4 linked regions of the Homo sapiens genome follow. The protein of the gene in region 3 purifies or fractionates together with the protein of the main gene of each other region. This does not show direct contact. Each region holds a gene or a part of one and is shown on either strand. Other genes may lie near its edges.

What was found. Proteins that work in one complex are often made in the same cells at the same time.
Region 1: the proteins of POGLUT3 (region 3) and SUCLA2 fractionate together in Homo sapiens (co-fractionation; one large-scale study listed by BioGRID). This does not show direct contact.
Region 2: the proteins of POGLUT3 (region 3) and NIT2 fractionate together in Homo sapiens (co-fractionation; one large-scale study listed by BioGRID). This does not show direct contact.
Region 4: the proteins of POGLUT3 (region 3) and ABHD10 fractionate together in Homo sapiens (co-fractionation; one large-scale study listed by BioGRID). This does not show direct contact.

What each region holds. Positions count from the first base shown.
Region 1 is NC_000013.11:47,952,774-47,956,614, forward strand, and holds part of SUCLA2 (succinate--CoA ligase [ADP-forming] subunit beta, mitochondrial precursor), read right to left. Parts: intron 1,785-3,841; coding exon 1,623-1,784; intron 1,510-1,622; coding exon 1,367-1,509; intron 1-1,366. UniProt on the Homo sapiens protein: ATP-specific succinyl-CoA synthetase functions in the citric acid cycle (TCA), coupling the hydrolysis of succinyl-CoA to the synthesis of ATP and thus represents the only step of substrate-level phosphorylation in the TCA.
Region 2 is NC_000003.12:100,358,416-100,362,135, forward strand, and holds the end of NIT2 (omega-amidase NIT2), read left to right. Parts: 3' UTR 1-3,220; downstream 3,221-3,720. UniProt on the Homo sapiens protein: Has omega-amidase activity. The role of omega-amidase is to remove potentially toxic intermediates by converting 2-oxoglutaramate and 2-oxosuccinamate to biologically useful 2-oxoglutarate and oxaloacetate, respectively.
Region 3 is NC_000011.10:108,495,306-108,500,111, forward strand, and holds the start of POGLUT3 (protein O-glucosyltransferase 3 isoform 1 precursor), read right to left. Parts: upstream 3,080-4,806; 5' UTR 3,062-3,079; coding exon 2,860-3,061; exon of another isoform or gene 2,656-2,859; coding exon of another isoform or gene 2,496-2,655; intron 1,914-2,495; exon of another isoform or gene 1-1,913. UniProt on the Homo sapiens protein: Protein glucosyltransferase that catalyzes the transfer of glucose from UDP-glucose to a serine residue within the consensus sequence peptide C-X-N-T-X-G-S-F-X-C. Can also catalyze the transfer of xylose from UDP-xylose but less efficiently.
Region 4 is NC_000003.12:111,991,106-111,993,868, forward strand, and holds the end of ABHD10 (palmitoyl-protein thioesterase ABHD10, mitochondrial isoform 1 precursor), read left to right. Parts: intron 1-271; coding exon 272-616; 3' UTR 617-2,263; downstream 2,264-2,763. UniProt on the Homo sapiens protein: Acts as an acyl-protein thioesterase that hydrolyzes fatty acids from acylated residues in proteins.

The DNA.
Region 1 (3,841 bases), on a different chromosome or scaffold from region 3:
TTCACAAATGTGGTCACAATTTGCCAACATTATCTCTTATCATTTATCCCAATAATGCCATATTCTTACACATAAGCATCTTACCACCCCATGAACATAATGGCCCTCTCTGGATTCTATGTCTTTGTACATTTTCTTCCTCTTGCCCTCATTTAATTTTCAAGACAGCTTAAGGTATCATCCATTCAGTGAAGGCCACCCTGATTCTCCCAGTTTTTGCCTCTGTCCTCTGTTCTTCCACAGCACTACTTTGTGTCAATCACCCCAGTAAAACTATAAGTAACTTAAGAGAAGGGCCCATGTATTTCCAAGTCCAAGCACAGTGACCATCACAAAATATATGGCCACTTCAATGCTATCCACATTGACACCCTGGGTTACCATTCTGTTTCCAACTCTGACGCCCATCATGTCAGTCCCCTACACTGTAACTCTTCATATACTTTTCTCCATTCTTGCACCTGGGCCCTAAAAGCCATGCTTAGAAAAATAAACAACTAGAATTCTAATTCTAGTTGTAAGTACTCAACTCAATTCTAGTAGTAAGTACTCAACAGTTAGATAATTAGATTGTCTTTAATACTCTGCTTCTCGAGTTTGTCAAAAGAAGCTATAGAAATATAGTTCTAATAAAATGTTTACTTGTTTTAGTAATTACTAAACAAGGGAAATAATGCACATTTTACATCTCATTTAGTTTAATCCTCCTTGCAAAATTAATAAATATGGAAAATAAGGCTGTAGGCTCAAAGGAAAAGGCATTGAAATAAATTTATATTTTAAACAATTCTACGGTCTAACACCACAAATAAAAATATACATTGCCAGCAGCATCATCAATAATAAATATTGATTAATGACCTACATATGTACTGGGCATTATACCAGACACTACGAGAAGCAACAATTAGTAAGATATCATCCCTATCAGTGAAGAATTCTCGGTTTAAATCCAGTAAGAATAGTTCCACAGAGATTATTATCTTTTTTGTAAGCCTTACAAAATCTACACTGGCCACACAATAGATACACTCCTTAACAAATATCTAGTGATTAATAATATATATGTCTTTTGAATTATGATACTTCACATCCCTTATACTTTGATAATCATTAATAAACACATAGTTCTAAATTATGGCACATCTATAATGACAGATTACACAAACATTAAAATGAGTGTTTCAGAAGAGTCTCTTGGTGAATTGCAAAAATCTTCAAGATATGATAGCAAAAAAAGACTCAAAATATATATTAAAAGACATATATATGAATTCTAAATTCTAAAACATAAAAATATACATTTTTATAAGTATTTATTTTATATATTTACATGATATAAAAATATATCAAGCCCTGCCCTTACCTTTTTATCTGAAGTGATAAGCTTAAATGCTTCTGTTACTTGATGGACTGTAGCACCACCACCAACATCAAGGAAGTTGGCTGGAGTCCCTCCATGAAGTTTTATTATATCCATTGTGGCCATAGCCAAACCAGCACCATTTACTATATAGGGGAAAATGATTTGTATAAGCAACAAACACAGAGAAAATAAATTAAACTTAGTAAATCCAAATTAAACTTAGTGAATCCAATTCTAACATAAAAACACATGGTACCTAGGCAGCCTATATTTCCATCGAGGCCAATGTAGTTGAGATTTGCCTTAGCAGCATCTTTGTCCCTTTCATCTTCCTGGGTCCAGTCCTGTAGATCAAAGATTTTCTTTTGGCGATAGGCTGAATTAGAGTCAAAATTGATCTTTGCATCCATACACAATACTTTGAAGGGAAAAAGAGAAAAATGACCTTAATTTCAAGACAGATACAATAAAGTATCAAATAGTCAAATGGTCTTTCATTTAGGGAAAAGACACATTTTAATTTTGTTACTTAATGAAAATATTTCAATTTATGTTCACTATGAATTCAAACTGTTCTTTAAAAAAGAATATTTGGGAATTAAAACTGCCCCATCAAAGTTATTGGGTCTACATCCATGCTATGCACTACATAAAGAAAAAGAAAACCTCAAAAATATTTTAAATTATTTAAAAATTGTCAAAAATTAACTATCCTTGTTCGTAGCTAACCCCATCACTTGGGCCCCATATCCCATCCCCTCTCCTCTACTCAAAAATAATGTTCCAGCAATTCTGTCTCCCCTACATTATAAATCTGCCTCCCCCCACCCCTTACCTTTCTATTGGCTAAATCTTGCCGACTTGCTAAAACAGTTTTATTTCCTCACCTTAATAAAAAGAAAAAAAAATCTTTTAACTCCTATCTCCCCCTTACTCTTTACTACATAGCAACTCCTTGAAGATTTGTCTAATTAAAAGAGGGGTCTCAGAACAAGGGTTTCTGGGGAAAAAAAAGAAATAGAGGGGTGAGCAAACTATGGCCAGATTCGGCCTGTGCTTGTTTTTATTTTTTATTTTTTTGAGACAGGGTCTCGTTCTCACACCCAGACTAGAGTGCAGTGGCATGCTCTCAGCTCACTTCAACCTCCACCTCCCAGGCTCAAGCAATTCTCATGCCTCAGCCTTCCGAGTAGCTGGGAATACAGGCATGCACCACAACACCCAGCTAATTTTTGTAGTTTTAGTAGAGATAGGGTTTTGCCATGTTGGCCAGGCTGGTCTCGAATTGCTGACCTCAAGTAATCCACCCGCCTCAGCCTCTCAAAATGCTGAGATTAAAAGTGTGAGCAACTGAGCCCAACTTGTGCCTGTTTTCAAATGGCCTGTAAGCTAAGAATGGATTTTACACTTTTAAAGGATTATGAAGTCAAAAGGGGAAAAGAAAGAGAAGAAGAAGAAGCAAAACAGCAGCATCAAAAACTATATGTGATCCATAAAGCCTAAAATACTTATTAAATGCCAACCCCTGTGCTTAAACTCCTTGTACCAAATTTTTTTCCTGCCATTCTCTCTTATACCCACTCTAATCAGGCTTTTACTCCCAGCACTCTACCAAAATGGCTCTTAACAAAGGTCACCTCTCTGACTTCACCTTTCAGTACCCTACCCCTTCCTCACTCCAATCTAACCACAACATTCTCCTTGCAGCTCCTGAAAAGATACAGGGTTGAAAGAAGCAAGCAATTTCAGCTGCTGCCCAACACAGGAGAAAAAGTTTGGAGCCCAGCTAAGTTAAGTACCCTTAATACCAAAAGTCAATATTCTTTCAGAGGAAGATAACAGAATTCAGTCTTTACACCATAGCTCCCAAAATGCACAGTGTATGAGTCAAACTTACTAGATCCGTAATGAAACGGGGAAATGTAACCACTAGTAAAGAGAAGAAACAGTCAACTGAAACCAAACCCACAGTAACCCAAATTTAGAATAATCAGAAGACTATTATAAACTTTTTAAAACATGTTTAAGGATTTAAGAGAAAATATGGTCATAATAAATGAACACACAGGTAATCTAAGCAGAGAATAAAACAAGGGAACAACATGGAAAATCCAGAACTAAAAAGTATAATATCTGAAATAAAAAATTCACTGGATGAACTTAACAGCAGACTGGTGATGGGTCAGTGAACCTGAAGACAAAGAGAAATTATCCAATCTGCAGGAAGAAAAAAAAAGAAAAAAGAAACTGCACCTCAGTGACCTCTTGGACAATATCAAGAAGTCTAATGTGAAACTGGAAGAAAAGGAGAATGGGACAGGAAAAAAGTGATGAAAGAAAAATATATCAAGCCAAGATTCTATATCCAGTGAAAATATACTTCAAAAGAAGGACAGAATAAAGATATTTGCAGAATAATGGAAACAATATTCATCACTAGCAGACCTGTGCTAAGAGAAATGCTACAGAAAGTTC
Region 2 (3,720 bases), on a different chromosome or scaffold from region 3:
TTTTTTGTTTTTGCATAATACTTTGAAGTCTGCTATCACAAGTTGTGAACCTCTATCTCTTGCAGTTTAGGTAAGGCAACACATTTAATGAATTCACATTTAAGTGAATTCCTCACAGGGATGACGACCTCTGTTGAAATAGGTCAGGATGTGCAGTTTGTGGTGAAAGTTCTACTTGACTTTGACCTAGCTGTTTGAAGCTGAGAGCTAACAGATAATAAGTGTTGCACTGGTTGCAAATGAATAAATAAGTAACATTATGGGGTTTTAAATGACCAAGGAGTAGATTGTGACATCGACTGGGTATTTAGGGAAGGACTCCTTCCTGATACCAAAAGTTAGGTCTGTGCAAAGTACACCAAGTGGAAAAAAGTTTAGACAAGAGTTTAGGTTTCAAGATAAATGTTCTGCTCTATTGGCACTGGTTTTAAGTCTTTTGTGCTACTTTTTAGGCATTGCTGTGTAAGTTTTGGTGGTGCGTGGGTACAATGAAGCCAGGAGGGATAGAAAGGGAAATGATGTGTGTGCTGCAGGCTAAACAGGGGCTCTTCCTTATGCCTCATAACCACCTGTGTGTGACAGTTTCACATTTCCTATCAAATTATTATCTTCATTCATTTCTACTTGTGAATGAAGTTCGGAGACTAAGAAAAAGCCAGCTGTTGGAATAGAAAGCACTTTAGGATAAAATGGTCTTGTTAAAATCACCAATTAAAAAGTTAAGCCCCTGATGTACAAATAACTAAAACACATACATACAAAGACAGTGCTTCTTGTTCAATGATTTACTTCACAGCTGATTCATAATCAAATGAACAAGAATCTGCAAGAACAGAACATGGTGGGCAGGGTCCAGTAATTCCAAATGTTGTCATCCTAGCTCTTCCTGAAGCATATTGAATCCTCCAAGTATATCCCGTTGTGCTAACTAGGCTTTAAGTCTTTTGTCTGTAGATTCATTCTCAAAGTTTCTCCCTCAGAACAAAGAGCACGCCATCCTGTAAAGTACTCTTCCTGATTTTTTTTCACCCAATTTCTTAGTTTCTTTCAATTGCTTTTCAGACCCCGGCAGGCAGATTCTGCCCTCATCTGTCCAGTGACACTCTTCTGGCAGATTACTAAAGACCGATTTGTAGACCTGTCCATGTGGCCTCTCTCAACACCATTGGTGTGACCTTGCTCATACTGCCTCTCTCACCACTTAACATTGTCCCTTAGATGTTAAAGGCCCTTATATTAATAGTTTTATTTTAGCTCCTTTACATTTTATTTTGTCCTGAGGAATCTCAGCTACATGCATGGTCTTCAATATATGCCGATAATTCTCATTCACATAGCTCTCCTGTTGGCTTTTCCCCACTCGTTTAAAAACAACCACTTCACTTTGCTGGACTCTACCTTGAATGCCTCATTTTCAGCTCACACTCATGCTGTGCCTTTATTTAGATTTGTTGTGGTTGTTTCCCCACATTCTGGAAGCTCCTTACCTAAATCCTGTTTATTCCTTAATGCTTAGCACAATTTATTACTCTTGTTTCCATGGCACTACATTGTACTTCTGTTTTAGAGACTACCTTCCTCTGAAGCATATGACAGGTTCATTTACTATCCAGCCCACCAAAACTCAGTTTTTGAGCTCCTCTATGTTCATCTTTTTATGGCTAACCCTCACCATCATGAGTGCTTAGTAAATGTTGAGTTGGAATGAATTTATTCCTACAGGTTGCACTTGCTCTCTCACCAAGTGTTCTGGCCAAATAATTCTGGAATGATTTCCTTACCTTAAGGGAGTCTGATCTGGGAAGAGCCTGGGACGTGATGTAACTTCATATGCTGTAGAGCTGAATATTCATTTACTTAAGATCTTAGCTCCATTAGAAAGCAGTGAAAGCAGTGTTAATTCAGAGGCCGGGTATGGTGGCTCACGCCTGTAATCCCAGCACTTTGGGAGGCCAAGATGGGCAGATCACTTAAGGTCAGGAGTTCAAGACCAGCCTGGCCAACATGGCAAAACCCCATCTCTACTAAAAATACAAAAATTAGCCGGGTGTGGTGGCACATGCCTGTGATCCCAGCTACTCGGGAGGGTAAGGCAGGAGGAGGTTACAGTGAGCCAAGATCACACCACTGTACTCCTGGGCAACAGAGTTAAACTGTATCAAAAAAAAAATGCAGTATTGATTTAGAGCTAAGGTCACCTGATGCTCAGGCCAGTAATTTCTCCCTGCATCATGCTGTTGTCTAAGGCAGACACTGTAAAGCTCTACACTGCTGAAAAACTAAGCTTGAGATGCATAAAAGAACACATAGAGATGGGGAGTCAGTTCTCCATACATTTTGTGAGTAGAGGCATTGGTGTTTTGTTCCAAACTATCCAATCGAGAATGTTCATATAATGACAGCTTTGGAAGGTAGAGACTATCTTCCTCTGGATCATAGGACAGGTTTGTTTACTATCTGATACAGTCAAAATAGTGTTTCCCTCTAATGCGAAAGTCAGGCCAGTTTGCTTGTGACCTCATTAGATTTGGGCTGTGACGCAAACCCACTGCATGTGCAGTATCCACCTAGCTTGCCCTGTGTCACTCCCATGGGATCTGTGGCTCAAACTCATGTTGCTTGCTATGTTCTAAATAATTAAGTCTGTTGTCTGACCCAGGAGTCTCATGTCTTCTGCCAGCATTCAGAAAACTAGTTTTCAAGAAGGGTAACATCTTAGACCTTTTACAGCTCTTGACACAGAGCAATATTGAGAAATAAAATCAGGTAAAAGTTATTTAATATAGCAGTTCATAATTTAGGCCATGGATCATCTCTGCAGAGAATCCTACCATGCTGCATTCTTGCTTTAAACCTTTCGCCCTCTAAAACAATGCCCAAGAGCCAATGTTAGTCATGGTCTTCCTGTATTTGCTCTAGGTAAGCTGTTTCATAGCCTTCCAGGACAACACTTGCACAGGTTATCTTTAAGCACCAACAAAAGAAATGGAGAAATTTGAGCCATGTATCCTGAGCTCTGAAAGGCAGCAATCATCTTGACCCCAAGCATACACCATGTTCAGCTTCCTCCCCTTGGCCAGGTACCACAGCTACTTCTATCCCAGTGATCAGCAGGCCCTCCAGCATGAAGACCTTTGAGAAGGATCTATAGCTGTCAACTCCTAATATGATTTGTGCACTATCACCTTGAAGTAAACCAGACTAGTTATTTTCATGCTAAGAGTCTGAAAACAGTGCCTTCTTTCTGATGTCTCTTGTAGAATATTGGCAGAGGGATCTCAATTTTTACTTTATACCTGAAGGGCAGCTTTTTGGTCTGATAGTTATAGTGCAATCATTCATATTTTAAATCACAAATACCCCCACTTGTTGATGAAAACTCCAGTCTGTGGCATGGGTGTACATTCACTGCCTAAACCATCTTTGGCCAAAATTTGTGTGTATATGAAGTCATTCTACTTTAGCATACTCAAAGGCATTCCTTTAAACCATTTATCTGCTTGTACACAATAGCCAAAGGAATATTTGTTACTATGGCTGATGTAATAAACTATCATCACAAATTTAGTGGCTGAAAAAAAACAAAGTTATTCTCTTTTACTTCTGGAGTCCAAATTCATGGGGCCAAAATGAAGGTGTTGGCACTCTGCTCTAGGGCAGGATCCGTTTCTTGCCTTTTCCAGTTTCTGGTAGTTGCCAACATTCTTTGGCTTGTGGCCA
Region 3 (4,806 bases):
GACCACAGCTGTGCACTACCACGCCTGGCTGATATTTTGGATTTTTTTGGTAGATGGGTTTTGCCATGTTGCCCAGACTGGTCTCAAACTTCTGAGTTCAGGCAGTCTACCAGCCTTGGCCTCCCAAAGTGCTGAGATTACAAGGCATGAATAACCAGCTATTCAGTTGGTTCTTGAAGAGGGAAAGACTTCAGGACTTGGAAGTGAATGTTGGTGGCAGAAATGTAAGAAACTAGTTGGGTGAGTTTTCAGAACTATACGGCACCTTTTTAACTGGAAGCCAGAAATCAAGAGGCCTGAAAGGAAACAAAGGGAATCCAAAGGAATGAAAGTAAGGTTGTCCAAAAAGTTCCATTTTATTTATTTATTTAGAGAAAGGGTCTTGCTATGTTGCCCGGGCTGGAGTGCAGTGGCACAATCATAATGCACTGCAACCTTGAGCTCCTGGGCTCAACTGATCCTTCTGCCTCAGCCTCCCAAGTAGGTAATTTTTAAAATTTTTATTTTAAGTAGAGATGGAATCTTGCTATGTTGCCCAGGCTGAGAAGTCTTTCTAAGACTAAAAAAGGTAAAAAAAGAAAAGTCACAGATCACAGGGGTAAACCATGCAGAATCATAAATGTAACTTTCCTTCTGTTAAGATATTTAATAGAAACTGTCTGTAAACTTTTTCGTTTGTTTAAATATATTTATGTATATATAATATATGTACATATAAAACATATACACAACTTTAAGTCATGTATCATTTGGATTTTAACTGAGAGTCTTTAACATACATTAGAGATTGACAAACTAGCTAATCCAGCTCAGTGCCTGTTTTTGTAAATCCTGTAAGCTAACAATGATTCTTATATTTTTAAAATGGGGATGGGCATGGTGGATTATGCCTGTAATCCCAGCATTTGGGGAGACTGAGGCAAGAGGATCCCTTGAGGCCAGGAATTTGAGGCTGCAGTAGCTATGACTGTACCACTGCACTGCATCCTGGGTGACAAAGACCTTGTCTCTTAAAAAAAAAAAAGGAGGAGGGGGGTTGGAGAAAAATCAAAATAATAATATTCTGTGACTTATGGAAAACTATATGAAATTGAAATTTCAGTGGCCATAAAAAGTTTTATTGTAACATAAACGGGTTTGTTATATGTCCATGGCTACAAAGCACAGCTGAATAAATGTGAGAGATGATATCACCTACAAAGCCTAAATTATTTACTATCTGGCCCTTTAAAGAAAAAGTTTGTGAAACCCTGATATACACACATGCGTTTCTGTCAATAGAGTCGGAATTATTTTACCTAAATGCATATCATGCATATGAAACCAGTTGTCTGAGTATTTAGGGTCTAACTGGTAGACACGTTATCAAAGCAATGCCCAAAGACAACTTCAGGAGTGGTGTTCTGAATCAAATGTAGAAAACAAGCCACTGAGGTAGTTAAGGGAGAGGCAGATTCTTGCCTCAGCTCAAATTTCTCCAGTGGCTCTCTTTTATCTAGTTATAAAGTCATTTGCTTGGCATTCAAGGCGCTTGAAGACCAGAGGCTACAATCAACCAGGCTTTTCCGCTCAGTATCATTAAATTACAGTACTTATTTTCCCGAACACCACGGTCTCCTACGCCTCTGTGCTTCTGCACATGCCATGGCGTCCTTCTATATGCCTGCCCAGCAAACCTTCTCATCCTTCAAGTCTCTGCTCCTGAAATCTTCCTGGATTTCTCCAGTCTCTGGCAGTGCTTCAATGTTGCCACTGCACTCTGTACATACCTTCAATTATCTTGTACAGTGATCAGTTATTTGCATGTCTTTGACCAACAGACTGTAAGTTCCTTGATGGTCAGGCATTGTCTTTTCATCCTTAGATTCCCAGCAGAATTACCAAACACAGAAGTAGACATCAAAGAAGTATTTCTTGAATGAATGAAATTTTAAAAATCATTAAATCTAAAAGTGAATTATGTTTGGTTCCTAAATTCTCTGCTTTGCCCAGCTGTCAAGACCCCCTTACCCCTTTCCCAAGTTGGGACACACTTCTGGCAGCTATGTTCCCAGCTGGACTAGCAGGGGCAGAGGCACTGGTTTATTCTAATTGTCTCTTCGCTGATACAACAAGGTGCTAGTTGGCCAGAGCCCCAAATTATACATTAGCAAATCCTGACTGACAACAGCGTGAAACCAGCAGGACAAGTTTTAAGAAGTTGCAAAGGTTAAGACGTGAAGGACAACGTGGGAGGAGGACCGGGCAGAAAGGGATTCAGGACGAGATCCATCTCACCCTCCGTGGAGGGAAAACCGAATGATTTCTACTGAGTTTCCCTAGTTCCTGTAATCTGCTTTCAAAAACTCAGAACTAAAAAGGAAACAAAAAACTAACACGTAAACCCCTCCTCCTTCCTACGGCTCTGACATTTCCTCTGCGTAGGATTTCGTTGCTCCAAACCCACCAGGCCTAAGCCATGTAATCCGACGCGATCCGTCGGCTTGATGACTCACCACTGGAAAGCGCTCCCTGCAATCCCTCACAGTTCAGACAACTAAGTCCGAGATGGAAGGCAACGTGTGACTCACGGCACACTCCTTGTAACGCCCGGGCGCCGTCCATTCGCAACATCAGTCCCTGCACATTAAATGCGGAAGGGCCCTTCAAGTTCATTCATTCATTCATTCCACAAACTTTCGTGGTGATTTTTGCCCGCTTTGAGTATGGGCGGGAGGAGGGAAGAGGAGCTGACCAGACCCAAAAAGGGGCGACACACGCCGGGGAGGGACGCCACGCAGGCCGCGGGCGGACTCCCGGGCGGCGGGGACGCGCGGGGACCCGGCCGCGGGACGAGGGAGGCCGGCGGCTGGACACTACCTGCGGGAGAGCGAGTGAGGTTCTGGCCCTCCGAGTTGACCGCCTGCAGGTAGAAATAGCGGACCGGCAGGACGACGGCCGCCTGCAGCCCGGGCCCCCACACCAGGCTCCGCGGCGCGCTGACCAGCACCTCCGGGGCCCCCGCGGCCACCAGCAGGGCGAGGCGCAGCTGCAGCAGCAGGGCCCGCGGGAGGCGGCGCATGGTCGGCGGGGCACAACTGCGGTCCAGCTCCGCGGCGGCGAGGAGGGGCCGGCAGCGCCGCGGACCGGGCGGGGACTGGGGCCCACCGCGGGGCGGGTCTTTCGGGCGGGAAAGATTGCGGCGCAGGCTCCCTTTCCCGCCCGCTGTCCCGCCTCGTCTCCCTCGGGCGGGAACGCGAGCCAGTGCCGCAATCACCCACTGCGCGCCCTGTAGGGGTCGACGATGGGTGCGCCCCTTCCTCCCCGCAGCCCCATAGGCCCCGTGGAGGAAAGGGGTGGAGAGGCCCGCCCAGAGACCGAGGCTGCGAGTGTGCGCTGGCTGTTGATTGCCAAGGCTTCAGGCACGCCTGGCCTCCACTTCCAGTGGTCTTTCCCTTTCTTTTTCTTCCTTCCTTTCCTTCTTTCTTCTCTTTTCTTTCTCTGTTTTTATACAGACAAGGGGGCTGGCTCTGTCGCCTAGGCTGGAGTGCAATGGCGCGACCACAGCTCACTGCAGCCTGGAACTCGTGGGCTCAGGAGATCCTCCCGCCTCAGCCTCCCGAGTAGCTGGGACTGACTGTAGGCACACGACACCACGCTGGCTAATTTAATTTATTATTATTATTATTATTATTATTATTATTATTATTATTACTATTACTATTTGTAGAGACGGGGTCTCCCTATGTTGCCCAAGGTGGTCTTGAACTCCTGGTTTCAAGCAATCCGCCCGCCTCGGCTTCCCAAAGTGCCGGGATTACAGGCATGAGCCACCGGGTCCGCCGCTCAGGTGTTTTTAAAGGACGTAGACCCGGTGGTGATTGTTGTGGGACGATGAAAGGGTCCGGCCCCAAGATCGATGTAGTTTAGGGAAATATCTTTTCCCAAGGAATGTCTCCGAGTTTACAAGATGAGCGCCAAGGTCACGCCCCCCGCCCTCCCTCACAGCCCTCTGTTCACAGCAGCACCGTTCTCTTGTGGCCGGTTTTGTTGCTTTTCTGCTTAGCAGCCTCCCTCACAGAACCGTGATCCCCCCACCCCACACATCCCTTTCCCCGCTTCCTCCCGCACTCCTCTTCTTCCAGCAGGTGTTTACAGAACATCCACGGAGTTTGGGCCAAGCCCAGAGTGAGGAGCTGGGCACTGGGGTGGCAGAAGACCAGGCCTTGCCTTGAGCCCTTGTGCGAGCTTTACCTCAAAGCCTCTGTAATCGAAGTGGGAGAAGGGGTGGTGGTGCGTGGTTGGTCTCAGCCACCTCCACCACTCCTCAGAAGATGAACGCTGGATCCAGGAAGAGATTGTCAAGGTTACTATCTGCCTCTCTTTTTTGATCATTTTATCCAATTTGTTAATGGATACAAATTTGTTAATGGATTGTTAATAGATCTGAATTTATTTAAAGCCAATAAAGATTCTCCTCTGGCTGAATGATCCAGAAGGAACTCACACCCCAGAATGGACACAGGATTTCTGCACCCTCTTGGGGGAACTTAATGCCCAAAACATCAGAGCCAGGCACTGGACAAGCCTTTGTCCGCCTCACGGCTTTAACCGTGCTACTCAGCATTCTTGCTGTGACCAAGTTTTACCAGGGCAAAATCTTTCCCACATTTTCACACTTCTCTTGACCTATTTTAGTAATGCTAAGCAGTGGTTATGGACAGTATTCTTTGTACTTTGGAAAGGTTTCAGGAACTGGTAGTCAGTTGCCGGTAAATTTTAGGGCTAAAGTGTAACATTACTTGGTATTACTTTCACTGATAAATT
Region 4 (2,763 bases), on a different chromosome or scaffold from region 3:
CACAGTATTTCATTTATCTAAACCATAATATCCTCTTTTATAAAAATAGAATAATAACAGAATTATTATCAGAATCTTATGGAATAATATGTATAAAATACCCATCACAGTACCTTGCATGTAGTAATTATTGATAATTATTATTGTTATACTTTTGTTATCTCTATCCTCTTATTCAAGAACTGCTTTCATTAGATTACTTAAAACTATTGCATGTGTTAATGTTGCCTAAAGTCACAAATACTTTTATTTTTCTTTCTTTTTCCAATAGCTAAAAAAGGAAGTAGAGATGAAAGGTGTGTGGAGCATGCCATCAAAATACTCTGAAGAAGGAGTTTATAACGTTCAGTACAGTTTCATTAAAGAAGCTGAACATCACTGCTTGTTACATAGCCCAATTCCTGTGAACTGCCCCATAAGATTGCTCCATGGCATGAAGGATGACATTGTACCTTGGCATACATCAATGCAGGTTGCCGATCGAGTACTCAGCACAGATGTGGATGTCATCCTCCGAAAACACAGTGATCACCGAATGAGGGAAAAAGCAGACATTCAACTTCTTGTTTACACTATTGATGACTTAATTGATAAGCTCTCAACTATAGTTAACTAGTATCACATGTTTAGTTGGTATGTAAACTAATGTATCCAGAAGATTGGAAGAGGGATAAGAAATGAAAGATCCTGATACTTTAGGTTTTTCCCTTTCCTCTATTTTGTAAATATAAGATGAGTATTATTTAATGATGTATTTGCATAAGTAATGCAAATTGTGAAGAAGGACCAGCTGCTGTTTAGAAAATTTTCTCCTTCCTTCTGTCCTTGATTTTTTTTCATTAAAGTATTTCCTTTTTTTAATTCAAGAAAAGTTTACCTTTCTTATGCTTATGTTAGCTATGCCAGCTCTTAATTGCATCCTTTTCTAATTAGGATTATTAATAAAGCGTGAATATTTTGTTTTTTATTATAGACAGAAATTTGTAACATTACTTCTGATTTGAAAATGCAATTCACAAAATATAGGGAAATTTTTATTGAAGTAAATTTGAAATGATGGAGAAATTTCAGAAGCATAATAAAGTTCACAATAAGGATAATACTTTATATAATGTATAAAGTATATATAATATAATATATATGTTATATAAACTGCACATTATATTCAAACTTAAAATTGAGCTTTTTTTTTAAAGGCCCAAAATTGTACAGTGATACAAGGAGCTATTTCTAAAATTTGGCTTATGTATAATATATTTAAATGGGGAATTTCATCTAAAACAATGATGTAGTATTTTTAATATTCTGATTGGTAAAATTAAAGAGGAAATTAATCTTTATATATTATTTCTTGCAGAAACATTCATTATTTTATTAATATTGCCCTAAGTACAACTAGGCAAGTGATTGCCACCTAAATCAGAAGACGTTCTAAAGTCAGTAAGAAAGTGTGAAATGCTAGTATAAAGGTTATTTTTTTTCTTTCCTAAATAACTAAAGTGAGGTGTAGATTGAGCCTTGATATTATTTAGTTAATGTTTTTTATTAATTAATTTTGGCTGGACTTTATTTAGCTTGATTAGGTTATTATCTGTCAAACCTTTTAAGTTGACAACATGACTCATATATATACATGTGTATAAGATGAGCATGTGTCGAAGACTTATTCGACTCATTAATGAGGAAACCAGCAGATAGTAAACCTGGTTCAAAGTACAATTCAAGAAACTGAGTATTTATGGGCATTGAAGAAAAAATGTTGAGATAAAATTGCTGTGCAGAAAAAAGTGTTAATGAAGCCGACCTGACTACTTAACCTTAGAGACCTGCTTTACAAGGTTGGCCCTTGATTGGCATCTGGGAACTTGGAGTTCAGGGGGCTTCCACCATTCCCAGAACTGATCAAAGTAGCTTACTATATCTAAACTGTAAAACAATATAGTTTCTCCTGAACACCTGCTTTCCTTCTGGGAGTCTGGAATTTTGGTATGTGCCAGGCAGAGACTACCTTTGTGACCAGCTCCCAGTAAAAACCCCAGGCACTCAGTCTCTAACAAGCTTTTCTGGTTGACAGTGTTTCACAAGTGCTGTTACAACTGGTTGCTGGGAGAATTAAGCTCATCCTCTGTGATTCCACTGGCGGAGGATTCTTGGAAGCTTGCACTTAGTTTCCCCTGACTTCACCCCATGTGTCTTTTTTCCTTTGCTGATTTTGTTTTGTATCCTTTCACTGTAATAAATCATGGCCGTGAGCAGAACTGTATGTGGAGTCTTATGAGTCTTCCTAGCAAATCTTCAAATTTGGGGGTGGTGGTGAGGGCCTCTCCACAGATACAAAACTGGTTTATGTCCTACGGGGCAATTAAACTACAATCCATGGGTTATCTTTTATACTGGACAAAAATTACAAACAGCAAAGATAAATCATCTATGAGTGCCACAGTCTCTGGTGCTGGAGTGGGTTGATAGAAGATGGCACTGGCTATTCAAGGACTTACTTTGCCTAGACATTGCTAGGTGTGAGGCTTGTTAGGAACATGAAGGCAAGGGCCCTTGCCAATGATGGTTTTCTGCGCAAAATAATAAATATGATTTGAGATTTATAATACATATGTAGAGACAGTATAGCATAATGGTTAAGGTCAGAGACAAGCTTGGTTTTTAATTTTGGCTCACCATTTACTAGCTCTGTGACTGAGCAGTTAACCTCACTGAGTCTCAGTCTCTTCTGTAAAATAACATAAACCTAGATAATGCGGTGTA